Homo sapiens: one gene and its partners. The protein of the gene in region 1 purifies or fractionates together with the protein of each later gene. This does not show direct contact. Each region holds a gene or a part of one and is shown in the gene's direction. Other genes may lie near its edges.

Region 1 (3,500 bases):
GGATGAGCTAGTAACCAGTGGCTATCGTAGTAGACGGTGCAGGGTTAGCTGGTAACTTTCCATAGAGGGGCTGAATATCTAGCTTCCGCTGATAAGTTATTACTTACGTTTTCACATCACGGGGAGTTGTTTTGAAATTGCAACTCTCGGCTGGGTACAGTGGCTCACGCCTGTAATCCCATCACTTTGGGAGGCCAAGGTGGGCAGATCACCAAAGATCAGGACTTCGAGACCAGCCTGGCCAACATGGCGAAACCCCGTCTCTACTAAAAATACAAAAATTAGCTGGGAGTGGTGGCGTGCACCTGCAGTCCCAGCTACTTGGGGAGGGCTGAGGCAGGAGAATCACTTGAACTCAGAGGCAGAGGTTGCAGTGAGCCAAGATCGCGCCACTCCACTCCAGCCTGGGCGACAGAGCAAGACTCTGTCTTAAAAAAAAGAAACTGCAAATCTCCTCATTAGAAGAATCTGCCTGAAAATGAGCCTAAATACATATTTTTGTGCTGAGTGTCCAGTTGGTGCCATTTATTTTCTAAAACACCTGTCATACCCATACAATTAGTACTTAACAACTGCTTAACCATCTATCTTTTCTCTTGGACTCGAAGCCCCTTATCTATCTTGCTTACTAAGCCCAATGCCTAGGTACCTAGAAGACGCTATGTGGATATTTTAAAATTTAATTGGAGTTAAATTAAAAACTTAGATAAGGGCTTCTCATTTGCTAGGCTTGATAAGAAAATGGAGAAAGTAATAGTGGTTGAAGCCCAAGATTGCATGTTTGCAGTATTTGTTTTCCCGATGAAGGGCCGTTTGTAGTCTGTGACTAGTTGTGTTACGATCCAATCACCCTTTCTCTCATTGAATATACAGTATATAGAGAGAGTGATTGAAAATCTACAGAAACCCAGGCTCTGTGCCAAGCACTGGGTATACAAAGATAAATGGGAAACAGTCCCTGCCTTAAAGGAAATGAGAAACAGATAAGTCTTACAGTAATACCGAATAAGTGTCATGATACAAATAAACACAGAGTGTTTGGGGAGCACAAGGAAGGGGGTCCAACCCAGGTCGGAGAATGGGAGATGGGCAGGAAAGACTCACTGTGGAAAGGGAATTTAAGCCCCACGGCGCCTGTGATATTCTTAGCATCCAACCCCATGCCAGGCACATGATGTGTTGAATCAATGAACAAAGTGACTCCTGAACCTAATGCTGAAGGATCGCTGTGTTTGTCCATCTGGGTGTGGACGGATGATCACGGCAGGTGAAGAGAGTGTGCATGACAACCCAGCCTACAACGCTAGAATCCTGGCTCTAGGGAATGACAAGATGCTGAGTGGGGTGGAGCAGAGGGGTGAGAGCTGGCATGAGCCTGCAGCATTTGGCAGGCCAGCCCACAAACTGCCTCCCTTCTTGTTCTTGTCCATATGACCGGTGACGAGAGATCGCACTTTCTTATTACAGGCAAAGCGAAGGCTGGAGCTAGGAGAAAGCGGTCATCAGTACCTCTCAGATGGTTTAAAAACCCCCAAGGGCAAAGGAAGAGCTGCACTACGAAGTCCAGATAGTCCAAAAAGTAAGGATCTTTTCATCTCTTTCCTTATTCTCCTTGGTATGGCATTTCCAAGTTTCAAAGCTTATGGCCGGAAGGATGCCAAGGTGTGAATAATTCTGGCATGTTTTGTTCTTTTTCATTTCTTTCTGTGCTTATCCAAAAAAATAAATACAATGTCAGCAGACAACCAGTGAAAGGCTACAGAGTCACACTGGTACCATAAGGGAAGACTTCTTTTAACTGTATGTAGTTTCATTTTTCAACTCGGAATACGAACTTTTGGCACCATTCTATATCAAATTTAATTTTAACTTCCCTTAATGGACATTGCTTCAGAGTCTGAGGCAAACTGGATGTCCACGAACTATGCCAGAGTCACCAGTGTCTGTGCCGACCTCAATCTCCAGCTCAGCATATGATAGCGTAAGAATTGATTGAGCCCGATAAATTGCAGGCTGTTTCTCTTTCTATCAAATACTATTACCGTTTCTTGTGGGAGAGAGAGAAACGTAGGTTAGAAATAGCCAACTAGTCCCATTATGTATGTGTTTGCATTTAACATAAGGGCTAAATTAGACTTTGTTCTCTCTCTTCCTTTAGTTCATGCATTAGGCAATCCACAAATTGTGTGACACTAAATTAAAACCTTGACCTGTGCACCTATGGGGGAACAAGTACAATATTAAGTAAGGAAATTTCCTTTAAGAGAGATGGGGAGATTTGGCAGAAGACTTTTCCAGGTAATTATTTATCAAAATGAAGCATTGTTTGGAAAATTGGTGAACAGGTGATACACGCACACACAGATACCAGAGCCTGAAAGGCCATTTGAGATGGGTCTGTTTAAGACCTTGTCCTGCAGTGCTAGTGAGACTCATAGCCTGGCTCCATCACCGTAGGCCTCGTGTGTGCTGGTCCCCTGAGGCCACAGCACTCTTTCATTCATTTGACAGATATTTTTTAGCGCCCGCTATATGTAAATTCTTCATTGGAGCCAGGGAATGGTGTAAGTCAAGGTAGAAACTCTTGAGAAATTCAAGGTGAAATGCTTTAATCAAACCCTGGAATTTTTACCTTCCCTTCCTGCTCTAATAAAAAACTTTCATAGCTTTCTATGACTTGCCAACACCAACAGCAACGACAGCCTTGCTTCAGATACTAATACTTTGGCTGCAGTGGGAAAGAGAGCTTGCTTGACTGCAAAGACACCCTTCATTTCTTTACCTTTCCCCCTATCCCCCACCCGCTCGGTTTTTGTTTTTCTTTAAGCTCCAAAATCTCCCTCAGAAAAAACGCGGTATGATACGTCTCTTGGTCTGCTCACCAAGAAGTTCATTCAGCTCCTGAGCCAGTCACCCGATGGGGTATTGGATTTGAACAAGGCAGCAGAAGTGCTAAAAGTGCAAAAGAGAAGGATTTATGATATCACCAACGTTCTGGAAGGCATCCACCTCATTAAGAAGAAGTCTAAAAACAACGTCCAATGGATGTGAGTAGGAGTCCTCCCCATGCCCCGGCTCTGAGGGGGTCGTTTCAAACTGCCTGGTTTCTTAGTTCCTCACTTTCACATCCACGCCCACACGTTCTTTTCTTTTCTCTCCTACTGTTTTCTTCTCTCTCATTCTCTCTTCCCTCCTCAGCTTCTAAGCCAGAAGTTTGAAGTCTCTTTACAAAGAGACTTTGTTTAGATACTGTCAGAGATAAAAGGATTTATATTTGATGAGCATCCAGCAACGGCATCCTTAAAGAGGTCCCTGCAGTTGGAAAGTGGACTGCTGTTCATCTGTTACATAGATGTCTGTGTGCACCCACGTGTGTATCTGACAGATGTGTACACGTCTTCAGCTTGTTTCTAATAAGAATCTGGAAATGATGGCTTATGGGTTATCTATGTGTATACGTACAACTGCATAGTTACAGAATATCTTTATCCATGGTTCTA
Region 2 (3,500 bases), on another chromosome or scaffold:
TCAATGAGTGACATTTAATCACCACCATTATTAAAGCCAGTCTTTTATTATTGTTTATTCTTTAATTTATAAATTTTCAGTATTTCTGGAAAATTCTTAAAAAGTTGAACCGTTTAGTGAATTGAACCTTTTAGTTTCACTACATTCTTAGGATATTTGTTTTTTTGTTTTTATAGCAATACGTTTGGTTTAATATTGGCAGTGTGGACACCTTTGAACGGAATCTGGAAACTTTACAGCAGGAATTGGGCATAGAAGGAGAAAATCGGGTGCCTGTTGTCTACATTGCTGAAAGTGATGGGTAATCTCAAATATAATATTTTGTAGACTGTTGACTGTGCTGCCTGTGGTTCACTGTGTTCTGTCCCTGGGTGCAGGGCTATACATTATATTCTCAAACAGGCCTTTATCAGTTTGGCCAGATTTTTAAAAAACTATTAGTAACTCACTAGTTTTTGCATGACTCATTCATTTTCTTTTTTTTTTGAGGTGGGGTTTCGCTCTGTCGCCCAGGCTGTAGTGCAGTCGTATGATCTTGACTCACTGCAACCTTTGTCCCCACCCCAGTTCACGCGATTCTCCTGCCTCAGTCTCCAGAGTAGCTGGGATTATAGGCTTCCACCACCATGCCCAGCTAATTTTTGTATTTCTAGTAGAGGCAGGGATTCACTATGTTGGCCAGGCTGGTCTTGAACTCCTGACTTCAGGTAATCCACCTGCCTCCGCCTCCCAAAGTGCTGGGATTACAGTTGTGAGCCACCACACCTGGCTTTTTATCTTTATTTTTATTTTTATTTTTATTTTTGATTCATTCCTTTTGTACACATTTATACTTATCTTGATGAAGCAGTGGTTTAGGGTATTAACATTCAATGCATTGACCTTTGGTAGGATTTTAGCATAAAGAACCCCTTTGTATCAAAGAGTGCCATTCCCATCTTTGAACTATCATTTATGTTTACATTTCACAGTTTTCCAGGATTTTTAGGTGATTCTTCTCTCATCAGAACTTCTTCTTTGGGGGTTGTCTTTAATAAGACCATGTTAGTAACCCCACTTAAAGTCTGGGCAGATGCTCCATTTATTTCGAAGAGTTGGTTGCCATGGAGCTTATTTGGGAATTCTGTTGCCTTTGAAGAACACTTGCAAGTTACCCTCCTTTGTATTAAGTGCAGAAGGTATACCTTGGTGTAGCTATATATATTTATATTGATATCTTGCACCACATGTGAAAGCTGGAGGTGAGCAGCCAGTCCTAACCCGTGTTGCGCTGTGTGTCCCCAGCTCTTTTCTGCTGAGCATGCTGCCTACGGTGCTCATCATCGCCTTCTTGCTCTACACCATCAGAAGAGGGCCTGCTGGCATTGGCCGGACAGGCCGAGGGATGGGCGGACTCTTCAGTGTCGGAGAAACCACTGCCAAGGTCTTAAAGGATGAAATTGATGTGAAGTTCAAAGATGTGGCTGGCTGTGAGGAGGCCAAGCTAGAGATCATGGAATTTGTGAATTTCTTGAAAAACCCAAAGCAGTATCAAGACCTAGGAGCAAAAATCCCAAAGGTAAAATGAAATTTAAGATTAACTTTTTGAAATGTTTCTTGATCTCTGAAGTTATAATTCTGTGAAGTTTGATTACTTATTATAGATAGCTGTTTTTCTGTCCTTCCTCTTTCTCAGCTTACTAGGCTAGCCTCTGCCCAACTCGAGGATCGTTTTGGGTCAGTTCTGTGTGCATGTGTCTTGTATAGTGTATGTATTCCTGAAAATATCTGTGTCACCTCCTCTTGGAAGATTTTCTTGATTCGTCTTCCTTTTCCCTCCAATCTGATTTAGATGCCCTATCTCTCAGCAACTGTAGGCCCGCTGTAGCTCACTGACAATGTCACACTCTGCTGTCACCCAGTGTCCCTTCGAGGGATGTATGTGGACAGGACACCTGTGCTGGCGCTGAGGTTCACGGCACAGGATCCAGTGGAGAGGACACAGCACTCACCATCACCTTCCCCTTTCCAGCAAATATGCTCTTGCCCACTGTGCTAGTGGTGGGCTGTACCCTACAGGGCTTGGTGCCCCTAGGGCTAGGCGTGGAGCATTAACTTCATATTTGTTAAATGGATCAGCTATTAAGTAAATGAATAAAAAGGTATAATTCTTTTAAAAGTCCATGAATAAATTTTACTTTAAAGGAATCCTTTGAAAGATAATCATTTCCTTGATTTTTATGTCTTACTTCTATAGATAAAAAGTCATATTTTATGAATTTATAACTTACTTAGTACCCGTTTGCATTACACCTAACTGTCTCTACAACTTAATATAATAGTTGTGTAGGGCCAGGCGCAGTGGCTCACTCCTGTAATCCCAGCACTTTGGGAGGCTGAGGTGGGTGGATCACCTGAGGTCAGGAGTTCGAGACCAGCCTGGCCAACATGGTGAATCCCTGTCTCTACTAAAAATACAAAAAATTAGCTGGGCATGGTGTTGTGCGCCTGTAATCCCAGCTGCTCAAGAGGCTGAGGCAGGAGAATCGCTTCAACCTGGGAGGTGGAGGTTGCAGTGAGCCGAGATCGTGCCATTGCACTCCAGCCTGGACAAGAGTGAAACTCTATCTCAAAAAAAAAAAAGTGTATTGTTTGAGCAAACACATCTTTCTTTGAAGTTAAGTTCATCATTGGTCGTTAGATTTCTACTTCATTTGTGAAACTTTTAAAGAAGAAAATAAGCAAAATTTTAAAAATACCTTAAGGTTTTATTACAAAGCCTAGAAAAAATATCATTTGACCATATTATCTACCTCCTCACAGTATTTGGATATGGTAGTGTGGTAGTATGTCTATAAATAAGAGAGGATACTGTTTGTGGGTAGTCAGTGGAAATAAAAACAAATTCACAGTTAGGTTTTAAGTTGCACGTCCAACCATGCTAAAAATGTACTGATTTGTACATGAAAGTAGAAGTCAGAAGTTGGGTTTATTAATTATTTGAGCTCAAAAACCAATTTTACTTGTAAAGAGTAAAAGAATTACATAAATCAGGAGTGTGGTGTTGGTGTCTTCTTAAATTATTTAAGTAAACCTTAGCAGATTTATTAGTATATTCCTAGCCCAAGTCACCCTTTACATACTGTTAGACTAAAGGTCTAAAAATCAGCCCTAGGAAAAAAAGGAAATATTTTAAATTTCACATTCTTACCAAATTTTTTGAAACAAAATTATTTTTGATAATCTTTTTATTCTTACTAATATAAAAATGTTCTACCATAGCTCAGATGTTTAAGTAATATTTAATATATATCAATAAGATTTAGAGACAGAGTTATATCTTGTAATTATTTGTGGATACACAATTTACTTTTCTGGAATTCTCATTAAATGTAATTTCTTTTTTCATATCTGAAGGGTGCCATTCTCACTGGTCCTCCAGGCACTGGGAAGACGCTGCTAGCTAAGGCCACAGCCGGAGAAGCCAATGTCCCCTTCATCACCGTTAGTGGATCTGAGTT
Region 3 (3,500 bases), on another chromosome or scaffold:
ATAAATCCATACGTGAACATTTGTACCCAACATACAAAACACACACGTTCCTGTTTATGCACGGCATATTTTTGTATCTGAAATGTTTTAAATGTTCAAGTAGTAATTTTAAGAAAAAAATTGAAGCTGAGACTTAACTCCTTTCAGTAATTTTGCAAATGCAGTGCTAAAGATTTAACTCCAAATTCTTCACATTGTCTAATTTGTAATTTAGGATGAGTTATGCTGAATTTCTTTGAAAAAAAAGTATATAAAGTAATTAATGCAGATCAATTTAAAAATAACATTAAAACTTTTTTGATGTTTGTATCTACCAGTGTTAGTCCTTTTATCTACTAATTGTAGTTACCATATTTACCCTGCTTATTGTTAGAAGGACTTGAGCTTGTTTCTGGTAGATAAGCCCCCGGTTACTTCTGATTTTTTAGACCTGGCCTGATTTCTTCTGAGCTGCTGCTGTGTTCATGTGTTAATTTTCAAAAATATCTGTATCACATATATGTTGATATAAAATTGGACTAACCTAGTTTAAATAGTCAATTAAGTTAGCATAATAATAAAAGTATCCTATAGTGCATGGCAAGTTCCTTATTGCAGTAATAATAAATGGAATGTCATTGACCTGGTAGGACTGAGAAAATATTTTGAATACAACTGATAGCATCACAGAATTTTAATGGCAGAAGGAACCTTAGAGACAATCTAAATTTAGTTCATCCCTTTCATTTTATAGGAATAAGACATGGGGCCATAAAGGTCAAGTCTTGCTGAAACTTACATATAAGCTTATTTGTGATAAAACTGTGACTGAAACTCGGGACTTAAAATTCTTTTATATTCTTTTACCTCCTAACAACTAAAGCACCTGTTCATTCGCTCTTCAGTGAGTAGTGTAATTCTAGAGTTGATTTATGTGCCTTTTTGGCGTTTGACTAGTTTGTGGTTTTTAAATTTAATTTAATTTCAATTTCTTAATTTTTTGGGACAGGGTCTCACTTTCTTGCCCAGGCTGGAGTGCAGTGGCATAATCATGGTTCACTCTATCCTCTACCTACTAGGCTGAAGTGATCCTCCCATCTCAGCATCCCTAGGAGCCAGAACTACAGGCATGCACCCCCATGCCTGGCTAATTTTTTAAAAATTTTTTTGTAGAGATGGGATCTCTCACTATGTTATCCAGGCTGGTCTCAAACTCCTGAGCTCAAGTGATCCTCCCACCTTGGTCTCCCAAAGTGCTGAGATTATTGGCATGAGCCACCACTCCTGGCCCGTTTGACATTAACGCCAGTTAATTAAATGATTTCAAATCTGACTTAAATGCAAGTATTATTTTAATTAGTTTGTTTTACATTGTTTCTTGTTGCTGTTTATTGTAGCTTAAAACAGAATTTGACAAATTGTTTGAAGATTTAAAAGAAGATGATAAAACCCATGAAATGGAACCAGCTGAGGTATTGAACCAATATTTTTTATTTAAGACTACTCAGAATGTTTAAATATACTTAGAATCTACTTTTTGTTTAATCACAGGATCTGCATGTGAAAAAGGAATGGCTTAATGTATTTCGCTTTATGACTTTTTATTTATAGGCTATTGAAACACCACTGCTTCCACATCAAAAACAAGCTCTAGCTTGGATGGTGTCACGGGAAAATAGCAAAGAACTTCCACCATTCTGGGAACAGCGAAATGACTTATACTATAACACAATAACAAATTTTTCTGAGAAGGACCGACCAGAAAATGTCCATGGAGGAATTTTAGCTGATGATATGGGTTTGGTAATTATTTTTTTCTTTAGTTAATAAAATCTAATTTTGTGATTATGATTTTCTAGAAAGTAATTTTGAAGTAAAAAGAGATAGGAATATGTTGGTACCAGTTTGGGACTAGATCTTACTATCTTTGTAGAACACAGTTTTTCCTGTAGTTTTTAGTTAAAATAGTGGTATAAAGATGTGTTCCTCAGTTTTCTTTTTTTTTTTTTTGAGATGGAGTCTTGCTCTGTCACCCAGGCTGGAGTGCAGTGACGCGATCTTGGCTCACTGCAGCCTCCGCCTCCCAGGTTCAAGCAGTTCTCCTGTCTCAGACTTCCAAATAGCTGGGATTACAGGCATGTGCCACCATGCCCAGCTAATTTTTGTATTTTTAGTAGAGACAGGGTTTTACCACGTTGGCCAGGCTGGTTTTGAACTCCTGACTTCAAGTGATCCGCCCGCCTTGGCCTCCCAAAGTGCTGGGGTTACAGATGTGAGCCACCCTGCCTGGCCATGTTTCTCAATTTTCTTTGCTCTTTGAAATTCAGGGTGACCTGTCTTTCATAGGTTTTCTTTTAAAAAGTAAAGACAAAACAATGTTATGTGAAATTGTATTCCATCACAAATATTGTGTTATGCAGAGTATTAAATAGATACTTATGTGTCCTTACACTAGCAGTTTTTATATTTTTCAGTCTCAGTAACCCTTTCTACTCATAAAAATTACTGATTTCAAAGAGCTTTTGCTTTTGTGTGCTGTTATCAGTAGTTATAGTATTAGGCAGTGGTAGCTAAAGATAGCAGTACAAACTCATTGCTTGTTAACATAAATAGCATATTTTTAAAAGAAAAATAACTATGCCAAAACATTAACATTTTTGTTGCAACAACTGGCATTGTCACATTTTTGCACATCTCTGTGTTTGGCCGAATAGATGGCAGCTGAATTCTCACCTGCTTCTTCATTCAGTCTGTTCTGTTAGGTTGTTTTGGTTGAAGTATATGAAGAAAATTTGTCCTTACGACGGTATGTTGCTGTAAAGAGAGGAGTATTGTAATAGCTTTTTAGATAATTGCAGATTTCTTTGATATACTGCATCAAAATTCAATAAATATTAGTTTATTAAAGGTTAATTGTTGTAATATGGAACGCTAAATCATATCAGTGAGCTTTTTATACCCTGTTTTGTTAAAATCTATTTGTGTATCTTGCTCATTGAATGAATATTTTACCCATGTATGATTTTATAACACCAGGCATTGCTCATTTAGAAAATGTTGGTTCATTGAGTTGGGCAGACCTACTAAATGTTGATGTATTTCATATGCAATATCCAAAACTTACATTCATTAATATTACCACTGATGTTATTAGAAAATCATTTACATTTTGGGAAGGCACTATGTTCATAGTGTCACACACAACTTTTCCAACATTCTAATTTTCTATTGAAAACTCACATTTTATCATTGACAAGCTCAGTTGTTTCCTTTGTAGATGACAGCCTCACTTTGTTCATTTTCTAGAAAGTATCTTTCAGACACTCAGTCGTGATTGATAGTTGTCATTCAAGTAAAAATGGTGTCGCATGAAAAAAGTGACTAGTTGAGCTTATAACTCCCATCTTGAGTGATTTTTCTCTAGCTAACCCTCATAGTTTGATATGCAACAGAAGTAGTTAATATGTAGTTTCCATTTCACTACACAGAATATTAAAAAGATTTGTACTGAAGTAATGAGA
Region 4 (3,500 bases), on another chromosome or scaffold:
TCTCAGCTCCCCTGACGCCCCTGGTACTCTTGCTCCTTCAGCAACGCCTCACTCCAAAGCTGTTCCATGAAGTGGTACAGGCGTTCCGAGCAGCTGTGGCCACCACCCGAGGGGACCAGGAAAGTGCTGAGGCCAACAAATTCCAGGTCACGGACAGTGCTGGTGAGCTTGGGGGGAGCCTGGCATCCAGGCTGTCTGTTGCGTTCTCTGTCCCGTGAGTACATCCAGGCCTTTTCGTTGCAGCATTCAATGCTCTGGTTACCTTCTGCATCAGAGACCTCATTGGCTGTCTCCAGAAGCTGCTGTTTGGAAAGGTGGCAAAGGATAGCAGCAGGTAAGAGGGGAGGGGGTGAAGGGGGGTAGGGTGGAAGGTGGGTCGGGACCACACACAGGAGAAGCCAGAGGCCTTGTGGCTAGGACAGAGACATGGCAACAGAGCCAGCGTCTTCTTGGGGACCCTGAGAAGGCAGCGGGGCACGAGGGACCGTTGGGAGAGGCTGGGCACTTGGGGCCAGTTGGAGCGGCCCCACCTTCTTTCCTTCCTGAAAAGGGAAGTTGTCTGCTCAGAGTCTCAGAAGGTGTGGCGTGTGCAGCTGCCTTTGCTCTCAGATTTTCCCAGGTTAGGGTTCTTGCTCTATTTCCCTTTGTAAGAACTTGTAAGTCCTGTCCATACTCCTTGATCTCTGCACTATGACTGGCCTGTTTCCTGGAGCTGTGTGTGTCTGTAGACAGGGGCCTCATCAATGCTGAGAACCTGAGGGCCTCAACTTCCCCTTTAGAGAAAGATTGGGCAGAGAAGGCCGTGGAAGGTTTTCAGAGAAGAGAGACGCACGGCCAAGCATTTGGTAGAGCATGGAGCACGTTGGGGTTCCGGGGCTGTGCAGCCATGTGACCTTGAGGCAGTGGAGGCCTAGAGTTGGAACTGCCCCAGGACACCTTCAAAGGAAGAAAGGAGACCCACAGGAGAGGTCTCGCCGACAGCGGCTCAGGAGACAGGGGCACTGTTGCTGGTGGTAGTGGTCGGGGCTGGACGGATAGAACAGAGCCATGTCCACATGGAGGCAGTGCTGTCCGAAGGGGACAAGGAAGCTGGCAGATGGGGGTGGAGGGACAGGCAGCGATTGGGAGGCAGCACGCACTGCAGCCTGAGCCACCAGGTCAGGGACCCCTGTCGAGGCAGCAGCTGTACCGGAGGGAGTCAGGCCGTGGGGAGCAGAGCTGCCTCCTGGGTCTGGGTGGGCAGCTGCAGGTGCCCAGCAGCCAGTGTCAGCACAGGTGTGAGGAGGGTCGAGGACGGGGGGCCTTTCTGGGGCCCTGCCCTTTGTCCTTCCCATGCTTCAGCAGATTTTAGTGAGCGCCTACTGCGTGGGCTCTGGTAAATGTTTTGTTTTGTTTTGTTTTGTTTGTTTGGTTTTTGGTTTTTTTTTTTCCTTACGAGATAGGATCTTGCTCTGTCGCCCAGGCTGGAATGCAGTGATCATAGCTCACTGCGACACGTACCTTCTGGATTCAAGTGATTCTCTCACCTTAGCCTCCCAAGTAACTGGGACTCCGCCACCAGGCCTGGATAATATTTTGTATATTTTTGTAGAGACGGGGTCTCACTGTGTTGTTCAGGCTGGTCTCAAACTCCTGGGCTTGGAGTTTGATCCTCCTGCCTTGGCCTCCCAAAGTGCAGTGAGTACTGGCATGAGTCTCCACACCTGCCCTCTGATTTTCTTTTCTTTGTGCAGCAAATGTGGGCCAAAGGAAACCAGTCTGCGGCAGTTGGTGGTGCCTGGGCGACCCCAGAGGTGCTGAGTACCAGCTGCTGGGCTTAGGGACCTCGTGTGGTCTCACGGTGGGGATGTGATCAAGGGGACCTAGAAAAGGTTTATGTCTGAGAGGGAGTTGGAGGCTGGGACTTCCGGGGACTCTTAGGGCGGTGGCCAACCCTGGGCAGGGCAGACAGGAGTTCAAGGCCACTGAAGGAGGAGCTAATGCACTTGAGAGGGTCCTCCTAAGCCCCTGTGTCTGTCCAGCTGTAAGGGGCCCTGAGCTTTTTTGAGTGGAGAGACGGGGGGTCTCTGCAGAGTCGTAGAGGCTATGCTGGCCAGGGCACGCGCCAACATGCTGAGCAGCCTCGCGTCCGAGCCGTGGGGCCTCCCAGCCAGGGGTGGGTGGTCTCTCTGCAGGATGCTGCAGCCGTCCAGCAGCCCGCTCTGGGGGAAGCTTCGTGTGGACATCAAGGCTTACCTGGGCTCGGCCATACAGGTGCTATTCTGGTGGGGAGGGCACGGGGGCCTGGCTGTATCTGGTGGTCGGTCCTTTTTTGTATCCCAGAATACATGGGTTTGGGGCTTCACTGTCCCCTCCTGCCCCCAGCTGGTGTCCTGTCTGTCGGAGACGACGGTGTTGGCGGCCGTGCTGCGGCACATCAGCGTGCTGGTGCCCTGCTTCCTGACCTTCCCCAAGCAGTGCCGCATGCTGCTCAAGGTTCGTGGCCCAGTCCCCTCCCTGTGTCTGTCATGGGGTCGGGGGGCCACACGGCTACCCCCACCACATCCCACTCCTGGCCAGGGCACAGGTGGTGCCCACACTCCACTGGCTCCGCTTGGCTAGAGAGGCCACAGAAGCACCTGGCCCCCACCCCCACCTGGGGTTTCTGTCTCAGGCAGTCCCTGCCTGCCCGGGCAGCGCGGCTCAGTCCGTGAGCAAAGCCACGGTGAGGTATCTTCTTCCCGGTGTGATCTCACATACGTCGGCGTGTCTGACGTGGTAAACTTTTGTGGTCCTCTTCTCACAAGGAGCAACACACCTGTTCTGTTCACTTCTGTAACTGAGCACCTAACTCACGGCTCCCCCGAGGTGCTTTGGGAAGAGCTGGTGGCCATGGGAGCCTTTGCCTGGCTGGGGAGGGCTGTGCTGGCCCTGGGGCATCCCTGCTGAGGAGGCTGGGGGGCCACCAGTGACGTCTGACCTTCTGCAGAGAATGGTGATCGTATGGAGCACTGGGGAAGAGTCTCTGCGGGTGCTGGCTTTCCTGGTCCTCAGCAGAGTCTGCCGGCACAAGAAGGACACTTTCCTTGGCCCCGTCCTCAAGGTAGTGGTGGGCCCTGCGTCTGTGTCCCTCAGCATCTGCATTGGAAATCTCGGCCTAAGGGCAGGGCGGGCTGCCTTTGTGGTTGGTGCCCCTCACTGGACCCTCACTGCAGCTCTGAGCAGACCTGGGCCCTTGGATCACGAATGTCTCACAGAGCACCTGGGGGTGGTGGGCAGGGAAGAGAGCCCTCGGCCTTCTCAGGGCCCCACCTGGACCCTGCTTCACACAGCTTCCCCAGGGGAGGGCCTCTCTGGCTGGAGGAGGACACTGGGTGTTGGGACCTGAGGCCATGGCCAGGGTACAGTCCTACTGCCCGTCCCCAAGCCATGGGTGGCCTGCATGTGGGGACCCTCAGCCCCCAGAGGGGCCCAGTGTGCAGCAGGAGCTTCTGCCCCAGCTTCTCCCAGGCCTGAGGCTG
Region 5 (3,500 bases), on another chromosome or scaffold:
GGCATCTTCCCAGGCTGTCAGCTTGTTGGAAGAGGTCATCACTCCCCGGAAGGACCTGCCTCCTTTACTCCTCAAATTGAATGAGAGGCCTGCCGAACGCCTGGATTACCTGGGTGTTTCCTATGGCTTGACCCCCAGGCTCCTCAAGTAAGTGCCTGCCCTCCTTCCACGGCATCACTCCTTGGCATTGAGAAAGAAGAGTTCTGTGGGCTGTGTGTCTCTGTTGGTAGCTGGTATCGGTGCTAGCCTGCTATTTGTGGCGTGCTCTTCCTGGCTCTTGCCCTTGTGTGTCTATCAGCCACTCCCCAGAGGCCACACACAGTGACCTACTGTCTTTGTATCTTTGCAGGTTCTGGAAACGAGCTGGATTTGTTCCTGTTTATCTGAGACAGACCCCGGTGAGTGAGGCATCCAGCAGAGGAGAAGTTTAGGTTTACCGTTATGGTAGGTGACAGGCCTGTCCTTGCAAAGAGCCCTAGTGCCTCCCTGCTGCATCGCTCTGAGCAGGTGGCTGTGCCTCTGAAGAGGTTTATTCTGATGGACATGGAAACAGCCATCCTCAGTGACAGGCCACATCATCACACATTTCTTCTCCGACTACACGGTGCATGCGTTGAGCTTAGTCATAAAATGGCAGAGGTACACGTGGACTTGTTCATCAGATTCTGGGAAAGGAGAGTGGACAGGAGGATCAAGGGTAATTCCTAGAGTTTTGGCTTGAGAAACTGGGTGTTGGAGGTGCTGTCGGAGATGGGACTCACTGCAGGAGGAGCAGATTTGGAGGGAAGAGTGGGAGTTCTTTTTTGATGTTAATATGAGATGCCTATTGGACATCCAAGTGGAAATGTGGACTAGGCATTCATTTGACTACAGGAATTTGGAGGTAGGGAAGTTTGGGGCTAGAGATGGAGCTTTGGGAGCCATCAGCATATTCATAATAGAATGCACTGCAGGAGGGCACGGAGCTCTTGTCTGTTGTGTTCATTGCTGTATTCCTCGCACTTAGAGTAGCAATTGCTGTGTAGTTTGTGTTCAGTAAATACTTTTGTTGAGTGAATGAAAAATATCTGGAGCCAATGAAAGGATGTGAGAGTGACTCCTTGGACCCTAACGTTTAGAGGAATGAAGAGGAGGACACAGCACATACAAGACTGAGAAGGAACAGCCCTGATGCGCAAGAGAAAGTCGGGTGTGGTGTCACACGTCAAGGTGAAAAAGTGGGAATGGGAGTCAGCCCTGTTGAGAGGATGAGGAGGATGAGGACAGCTGGCCATTGGATTTGTCAGCAGCGGTGAGCTGCATTGAAGCAGCTGCAGTGGAGTGGAGGCTTTGGCCTGGCCAGAGGGAAGAGGAGGTGAAGAACTAGAAGGGGAACAGGCGACTCTTTCAGGAAGCGAAAGGGAGCAGAGAAACAAGGTCGCTGGAGGGAGATGGGCGCTAAAGAAGGATTGTCCGATGGGAGATTCTAGAGAATGTTTTTTGCTGCTGGGTTCGATCCTGCAATTAGTGGTATGGGTGAGGGGGGCTGACTGCCAGAGTGCAGGCCTTGAGGAGGTGGTGGGTGGGACTCGAGATTCAGGAAGAGAGGTGACCACCTACTTCATCCTTCGGAACAGGGAAGGCAGAGAGCGTGGGAATGGAAGGCATCAGTTGGCTGGCTGATCTGGGGTTGGGAGGATGAAGACATTGTCTTCTGAGTGCTTCTGTCTTCCCAGATGAGGGGAGTCCATCGGCTGAGAGGGAAGTGTTGGAGGTTTGATTTTGGAGAGGGCAAAGTCAGTATCAGAGGCTAGTGTCCAGTGTCCGTCCGAGGGTTTAAAGTGGGACTGGTGAGGACTGCTGGGTGTTGGGCTGCTTCCGTGCAGGCAGGGAGCTGCAGAGATGGGTTGAGTCTCTGTCAGTACATTTGGTGGAGGCTGAGGATGTAAGTTTGGCTGTCAGCTGCAAGGAGAACGCAAGCTAGTGAGCTGTGGTGTGGTCTGCGGTGTGTCCGTGTGGTCTTGCACTGTGCACTGTTCATTTGTGACTTGGTGGTGTTTTTATGGTGTGGGGCTTTGTTGTTATGGAGTAAAAAATGTAAAAATAGTCACAATTTTAACACCTAAAGAAGCCTGCACTTGCAGACTGGCTGCCAGCACTGAGGTGTAGGTTTTGGCCCTGGAGTTCCTGCTGTGAGGCATCAAACCCATGTTGACTGGATTGTGTGGCGCTTAAGCCCTAATGACTGAGTTCAGCATCTACCTGAGAGGAGCACATATTTCCCTCCCGCACGTCCCGAGCAAGAGGCAGGCCCAGAAGAGCCAGCAGCTCTTCTCTGTGTCTGTGACACTTTTGAGGAGATTGCAGGACAGTGATCTTTGCAGCTGTTGTGTGTGAACTGAGGTGATATGAGGAAGGTGAAGGCGAGGGCTGTTTGAGAAGGGCGCCTACCCCCAGCCTGGAAAGAAGGAGAGGCCTGCGGAAGCACTAAGCCTTTCTTCTCTGAGTGTTTACCCTTCATCAATGATGGGTTATTCAAAAAAAGGGGGTTCTTGGTGCCAGTTAAACCTCTGTGTTGCCCAGAATGACCTGACCGGAGAGCACTCGTGCATCATGCTGAAGACGCTCACTGATGAGGATGAGGCTGACCAGGGAGGCTGGCTTGCAGCCTTCTGGAAAGGTGACTGAGGAGTAGGGGTTTGGGGGAGACAATGAGGTGATTGGGGGCTGCCGGGGATGCCTCCAGACCTCTAACTCTGCGTGATGGCACCCCACAGATTTCCGACGGCGGTTCCTAGCCTTGCTCTCCTACCAGTTCAGTACCTTCTCTCCTTCCCTGGCTCTGAACATCATTCAGAACAGGAACATGGGGAAGCCAGCCCAGCCTGGTGAGCCGGGTGGGGACAGGGAGGAGGGTTGGGAATGGCTTGGCTGTGTGGGAGGTGGGTGTGGTGTCCTAGGAAGGGTTTGGGCTGGAAATTGAGGGACTGGTTCTAGCCTGCAGTCACTCGCTGGTCACCACCCGCTTGCCAGGCCCCTGCTCTGTCCCAGGCTGTGCTGTCTTTCATTTTCATGGTAAGACTCTGGCTGTGCAATTTAATGTCAGAGGTGTCCATTTAGTTCATGTAGCTGGTTGGTTATGGAGGCCGATTTACATCTGTGCTCTAGGGGAGTGAGGTGCTCCATCTCTGAGGTTTAGTTTCCTGATTCATGAAATTGTAATAAGAATATGCTGCTAGCCTTCTGTAGCCAACAGCACACAGAAGTGCTTTGTGCATACAGATTGTTTGAATACTTAAAAAACAAAAAATGTGTAAGAGATTAGTTTTATTGCATATTTTATATATAAATATTTAGGTATAGCATGCATATATGTGTATATGTGTGTGTATATACTTTTTTGCCAATTATATTTTGATGGAGAAATCCGTATATCTTGAGCTGGGCAGAGCTTACACACTTTCTGTGACACCAAATGAAGTGACAAAGCAGGGAAAGAGTGTAGTTGTGTTCCCCTAACC
Region 6 (3,500 bases), on another chromosome or scaffold:
TTCCTCCAAGGGTAAAAATTGTAAATATTTTGTAAATACTGTGTATGTGTCACATTGAAATCTACCGTATCTTTGGCAATGCTTAAAAACTATATCACATTATTTGTTAACTTGCATTAGTCAAGGAAAACAGTTGACTTGCTGTAGTAATGTTCTTTTGTAGCTTTATTTACTGTATGCTTTGAGACTGGATCCCATAATTTTTTCCCCGTATCTTTGTTTTTAGTTTCAGAAACCACTAATGATTCGATAATACATGATGTGGTTGAAAATCATGTTGCAGACCAACTTTCATCAGACATTACACCAAATGCTATGGATACGGAATTTTCAGCATCTTCTCCAGCCAGTTTACTGGAACGGCCAACCAATCATATGGAGGCTCTTGGTCATGACCATTTAGGAACCAATGACCTCACTGTTGGTGGATTTTTAGAAAATCATGAGGAGCCAAGAGATAAAGAACAATGTGCTGAAGAGAACATACCAGCATCTTCACTCAACAAAGGAAAGAAATTGATGCATTGCAGAAGCCATGAAGAGGTCAATACTGAACTAAAAGCACAAATAATGAAAGAGATCCGAAAGCCAGGAAGAAGTATGTATAATAAGAGACGAACCTCAGATCTGATTTCTGTATGTGCTCAAAAAGCAAAAAAGAAAAAAAAAGTCAAGTAACTGTAGTAAAAGAATACATATGATTCTAGATCTGTCTTGAACAACATCTCAGTTAAGATCCTTTATTCATCTGACCAACACCAAATATCTTCTATTTCCAAGGTACTAGGTATGGTGGTAGGCAGCAGGGACTGAGAGCAGAGCAACACTGTACAGATAAATTGACAGGAACCCATAGTCTTGAATATTCTGACCAACGATGGAATTTTAATATAGCAGCTAGCTCACAAGAGATATAGTGAAAATTAAATGACTTCATGTCTGTAAAGTTCTTGTCATAGTGCCTACCACTATGTTTAGTAGTTAAACTGTGATATTATAGGATATGTTTAGGCCAAAAAACTAAAGTTATGAAAGCTCTCTGGTATATGAACACAAAAGAACTTCGTGGGAAAAAGTTCAGTATTATTGGCATTCATTTAGAGGATGTTAACAGATCACTTGCCCTGGGGTAGTAGAATGACCTGGGTGGTCCAGAAATGGGAACAAATCAGTCCTTGGAGTTCAGACGTTTATAGCCCTTGCAGAGTTTCATATGAAAACTTTAAACTGAAATAACACTCTTAACCTGTCTGGTTTTTACCCCCACTTCCCAGTTACCCCCATGTTAGCTGTTAGAATTTTAAACTGTAAGGATGGAGTTTTGTAAAGGCCACTTGTTCTTATTTTTTAGTGATACTACCATAAAGCTATTTACTCATCCTTTTAAGCTTTATGTTTGATACCTTAATAGGAACTTTTACTTACAAAGCAGGGTTTGATTAGTTGTTTTATCTTTGTTGCTGTGTACTTACTTTTACATATATGTTAAAATATAAAATCTCTAATGAGTGGTGAAATTTTTATGTAGAATGTTTTTATCTCAGTATATCTTAATATCATAAACTGCAAAAGAAGAATATTGAATAAGAATACAAATGAAAGGCACTTAATTTTTCTTTTTGTTTCTTTTGCTTTAAGAATATGAAAGAATCTTCACTTTACTGAAGCATGTGCAAGGCAGTTTACAAACAAGACTAATATTTTTACAAAATGTCATTAAAGAAGCATCAAGGTAAATAAACTATTGCATATAATGAAATGGTGATGAAATGAGTCCACAGTTTATATAGGCAGTATTTTAATAGTATCCGTTTTGCACTTGTATTGTTTATAAATGTATATGGCATACCAACATATAAATAAATTCTTATTCTTTTTTAGTTTATTGAAAGAAATTCACTTAGAAAACAGCCACACATACATTCTTCAGGAATTATGGACCTTTTCTCCCTACAAATTACTGGATACTTGGAGAATTCTTGTTATTCTTCTCTGTAGCTTTTTGATATCTTTACATTAATATTTTATAACCTTTAATTTTTCTCCTTTATACATTAATATTGGTGACTAAAAATAACGTACTTGAGTGTCATTTATTTTTACATGGGAAAACGTAATTAAGGAGACAAGAATTGGACAAATGGGCCTTATTCTGATTGTTTCAGTAGCCCAGGATCATTAGTACATTGGCCCTCTGTATCCCTGGGTTCCACATTCATTGGATTCAAGCAACCACAGATTGAAAGTATTTGGAGGCGGGGAAATGGATGGTTGTATCTGTATTGAATATGTACAGGCTTTTTTTTTCTTGTCATTTTCTAAATAATTCAGTCTAATTCATATCGTATTTACACTGTATTAGTATTATAAATAATGTAGAGATTATTTAGAGCATATGGGAGAATGTACATAGGTTACATGCAAATATTGGGCCATTTTATACAAGGGACTTGAGCATTCGTGGATTTTAGTGTTCATAGGGAGGCCTAGAATAAATCCCCCATCCATACCGAGGGATCACTGTGTAAAGAAGGTGGATAAAGGTTATAAATGGTAATTAAGAAGTGCAATTAACTGGAAAACATAGTTGTATGAGTTTAAAAACATTTTTTATTTTCCCTTCAAGATTTTGGGGATTTTAGTATTATAAGAAAACTTGGGGCTTATCACATCCCACCTTCTAAATGTAAACACACTTATACTTTGTCCCCCTGTCTCTTCTATGCTACACATGAAGATTTTAGATAAAGTTGGTTTTGTTTCTGGTTTTCTTTTCTTTTTGTACTTTTGGAGTGGCTAGAGCATAGGCCAGTTTGCAGGATCAAGATAAGGCTATAACTTTTCATGTAATTTTGAGTATTTAACCTATTATGCTCTTTATGGTAACATTCTGTCAGCTAAAACCTCATTAGGAATTTATATCCCCGGTATCTGTACTTCACTTCTGCCACCTTTTAGAGAGTTGTGTAGTATTATGGTGGCTATTTATATTAGCTTCTAAGTAGCAAGGAAGTAGGAATAAAATGTCCAGTGTCTTGGGATATTCTTAAAACCGTCAGCAGTTACGTATACAGATGCAATTTTAGTCTGTCCATATTTGTTACTGAAAATCTTTAAAAGTTGTTACTTGAACTTTAACTGCTTGCTATACTCTGTATTATAGATGTCTATCCTTGATTTGCTAGCTCTCAAATTGTAATAGAATACCATGGTTTTTAAATGCTGCTGACCAATTTTCATTTCTTCTTCCATTTTGTGGGAGATTATATTCATACTTTGTTCACATTCCTTTCAATATTCAGCTTACAAAGAGCATGAGAAGAAGCTATTGAAGTATTTGCTTGGGGAGCCCAAATTTCACTAGAGTGTTTGCAGCCCTTGAATATATTTTGAATATATTAGTTTTTTGTTTTTTTGTTTGTTTTTTCCTTTTTCTTTTCGGTTGTGGAAGGAACAACCTCTTTCCCATTGTTTAGCCCTAGAGTGTTTTAGGGACAAAC
Region 7 (2,168 bases), on another chromosome or scaffold:
CTGGTGTTGATAAAATCTCCACTGCTCAGAAATATGTTCTAGCAAGACGGCGCTTGGTGAAGGTGATCAACAATCGAGCTAAACTGCTTTCCCTTTGTTCTTGTATCCTTTATGAAATCATGCACTTGAATGATGACCTTGAAATATAGGAACTGTTCACTTATTCTCATATTATTTGGGCACCAAAACCAGGTGGAAGGAGATAAACTTAATTTTTTCCCAGTAAATGCCTAATGTATTTCCAAATCATAGTTTTTGTTCTTATCTTTTAGAGTAGCTGGTAATACTGATAAAATACATGGGCACTTTCTGTTAGGGAAGAAGGTAGGGACATGAGACTGCTGGCACAGGACCCCAAGGTCCCCACCTCTTTCCTCAGCACACCTTGCTGCTTCCTCTTGAGGAGCCTTCAGTGAGACCCTGTCTGTTAGACTGAGGCTGTGGGTACCTCATTAAGTGAGTGCAGTCTGTCCTTTTTTCTTCTCCTCCGAAACTGGTGTGTAAAACATATTTGATGAGATTATGTTCCTTTAATCTGAGCTCTGGTATAGTTATCATAGAGACCTGCCTATTTATTCTTTGGCGCCATCTGGAGTACTACTTGTTACATTGCATGCCCACGGATTCTCAAGATTCCTTATTTGCCTCGAGAACCTTGTTTAAAAGCAGAAGACTGCAAGGTAAACTTTCTGCTAAAAATTAATGAACCATAAATACCTATTTGTGCCTTGAAAAGCTAGTACCAGTTTTTTTTTATTTTTGTTTCCAGATTACTTAGAGTGAATTGGGTGAATCAAGAGCTGTTTAGTCACTAGACGTAGCTATTTCTTGCATTTTACTTTCTGTTCACGGGACATTGTGCTGAGCATAAGAATATTCTAGAGCCTGCTCATCAGCTGTTCCTTAGCTTCTTGCTGCAGTTAGGGGGCTGATCCAGCTCTAGAAGAATGGAGGAGGTCTGCTATTATGCTGATTCTTATTGCTGGAGTGGGCCTCTGTGACTGATGGCCATATATTGGATCCCTTAGGTGGAAGGAAATAGAGAAAAGCTGAGAACCCTGGTCTGGACCAGTGAAATGCTTTCTAGGGGCTTCCATTTGCTAAAAGTTGAAAATTGAGTTCCCAATCTTGAGCCGTGTTTTTCATGGTGCTATTGTTATTATTCATTGTCATCAGGTTCCTCCACTGTGTGGTAGATAGGTACTTGCACAGCCGGTATGACTCTGTTTTTTTATCTCTAGATTCCTTCGCCTCAGAAACCAATCTAGATTTTAGAAGTGGGCTGGCTATAGTGAGCCAACATGATTTAGACCAGGTAAGGTTCTATTCTCATATTCTTTTATTTTTCTTCATTAAAGTAAAAGGGCTGGGTGTGATGGTACACATCTGTAATCCCAGCATTTTGGGAGGCCGAGACGGGAGGATTGCTTGAGCCCAGGAGTTTGAGAGCAGTCTGGGCAACATAGTGAGACCCCGTCTCTTAAAAAAAAAAATTGGCATACTGTGGTGGCATGCACCTGTAGTCACAGCTACCTGGGAGGCTGAGGTGGGAGAATCACCTGAGCCTGGGAGACTGAGGCTGCAGTGAGCTGTGATTGCACCACTGCACTCCAGCCTGGGCAACAGAGCAAGACCTTGTCTCCAATAAATGAATGAAAGAGTGAAGCAAGACCTTGTCTCCAATAAATAAATAAATAAATGAATGAATGTAAGTAAGTAAGTAAAAAGGAAAGCCTGGTATGTTAATAAGATTATGATTTTCAGGGTTGCTTACAGACACCTGGTTTGAACTCTAGCTTGACCATTTTAACAGCTATATGACTTTGAACAACTTACTTAACTTCCGAGCCTCAATTGCTTCATCTAAGAAATAGGAGGATTCAACCTCAGAGGGTTTTGTCAGAATTAAGTGAGGTTTCATGTATGTGAGGCTGCTAGTGTTGTACCTAGAACATGGTAAGCATTCCGTGATTGGTAGGCATTATGATCTGGAAACTCCTGATGTCTTTTGATTAGCTTTGTAGAACTTTTTAGGTACAAAGTATCACTCAGCACTTATTTTTCAGGAAATAATTTAATGGTGAGATTGAGAGCAGCCAATACAAATCCCGCCGTCATAGACCATAGTACACAACACTGTGCTCTTACTAACCTGTTGATCAGTAGTG

The links.
Region 2: the proteins of E2F3 (region 1) and AFG3L2 purify together in Homo sapiens (pull-down; one large-scale study listed by IntAct). This does not show direct contact.
Region 3: the proteins of E2F3 (region 1) and HLTF purify together in Homo sapiens (pull-down; one large-scale study listed by IntAct). This does not show direct contact.
Region 4: the proteins of E2F3 (region 1) and NOC2L purify together in Homo sapiens (pull-down; one large-scale study listed by IntAct). This does not show direct contact.
Region 5: the proteins of E2F3 (region 1) and NAT10 purify together in Homo sapiens (pull-down; one large-scale study listed by IntAct). This does not show direct contact.
Region 6: the proteins of E2F3 (region 1) and INTS6 purify together in Homo sapiens (pull-down; one large-scale study listed by IntAct). This does not show direct contact.
Region 7: the proteins of E2F3 (region 1) and NUP205 purify together in Homo sapiens (pull-down; one large-scale study listed by IntAct). This does not show direct contact.

What each region holds. Positions count from the first base shown.
Region 1 is NC_000006.12:20,478,379-20,481,878, forward strand, and holds part of E2F3 (transcription factor E2F3), read left to right. Parts: intron 1-1,467; coding exon 1,468-1,579; intron 1,580-2,827; coding exon 2,828-3,047; intron 3,048-3,500.
Region 2 is NC_000018.10:12,356,728-12,360,227, reverse strand, and holds part of AFG3L2 (mitochondrial inner membrane m-AAA protease component AFG3L2), read left to right. Parts: intron 1-176; coding exon 177-301; intron 302-1,284; coding exon 1,285-1,558; intron 1,559-3,396; coding exon 3,397-3,500. UniProt on the Homo sapiens protein: Catalytic component of the m-AAA protease, a protease that plays a key role in proteostasis of inner mitochondrial membrane proteins, and which is essential for axonal and neuron development.
Region 3 is NC_000003.12:149,069,534-149,073,033, reverse strand, and holds part of HLTF (helicase-like transcription factor), read left to right. Parts: intron 1-1,376; coding exon 1,377-1,451; intron 1,452-1,590; coding exon 1,591-1,782; intron 1,783-3,500. UniProt on the Homo sapiens protein: Has both helicase and E3 ubiquitin ligase activities. Possesses intrinsic ATP-dependent nucleosome-remodeling activity; This activity may be required for transcriptional activation or repression of specific target promoters.
Region 4 is NC_000001.11:952,757-956,256, reverse strand, and holds part of NOC2L (nucleolar complex protein 2 homolog), read left to right. Parts: intron 1-41; coding exon 42-162; intron 163-243; coding exon 244-334; intron 335-2,174; coding exon 2,175-2,253; intron 2,254-2,364; coding exon 2,365-2,475; intron 2,476-2,968; coding exon 2,969-3,082; intron 3,083-3,500.
Region 5 is NC_000011.10:34,136,629-34,140,128, forward strand, and holds part of NAT10 (RNA cytidine acetyltransferase), read left to right. Parts: intron 1-13; coding exon 14-147; intron 148-349; coding exon 350-398; intron 399-2,562; coding exon 2,563-2,659; intron 2,660-2,756; coding exon 2,757-2,867; intron 2,868-3,500. UniProt on the Homo sapiens protein: RNA cytidine acetyltransferase that catalyzes the formation of N(4)-acetylcytidine (ac4C) modification on mRNAs, 18S rRNA and tRNAs.
Region 6 is NC_000013.11:51,366,037-51,369,536, reverse strand, and holds part of INTS6 (integrator complex subunit 6), read left to right. Parts: intron 1-226; coding exon 227-598; intron 599-1,638; coding exon 1,639-1,732; intron 1,733-3,500. UniProt on the Homo sapiens protein: Component of the integrator complex, a multiprotein complex that terminates RNA polymerase II (Pol II) transcription in the promoter-proximal region of genes.
Region 7 is NC_000007.14:135,644,917-135,647,084, forward strand, and holds part of NUP205 (nuclear pore complex protein Nup205), read left to right. Parts: coding exon 1-102; intron 103-551; coding exon 552-680; intron 681-1,241; coding exon 1,242-1,315; intron 1,316-2,168. UniProt on the Homo sapiens protein: Plays a role in the nuclear pore complex (NPC) assembly and/or maintenance. May anchor NUP62 and other nucleoporins, but not NUP153 and TPR, to the NPC.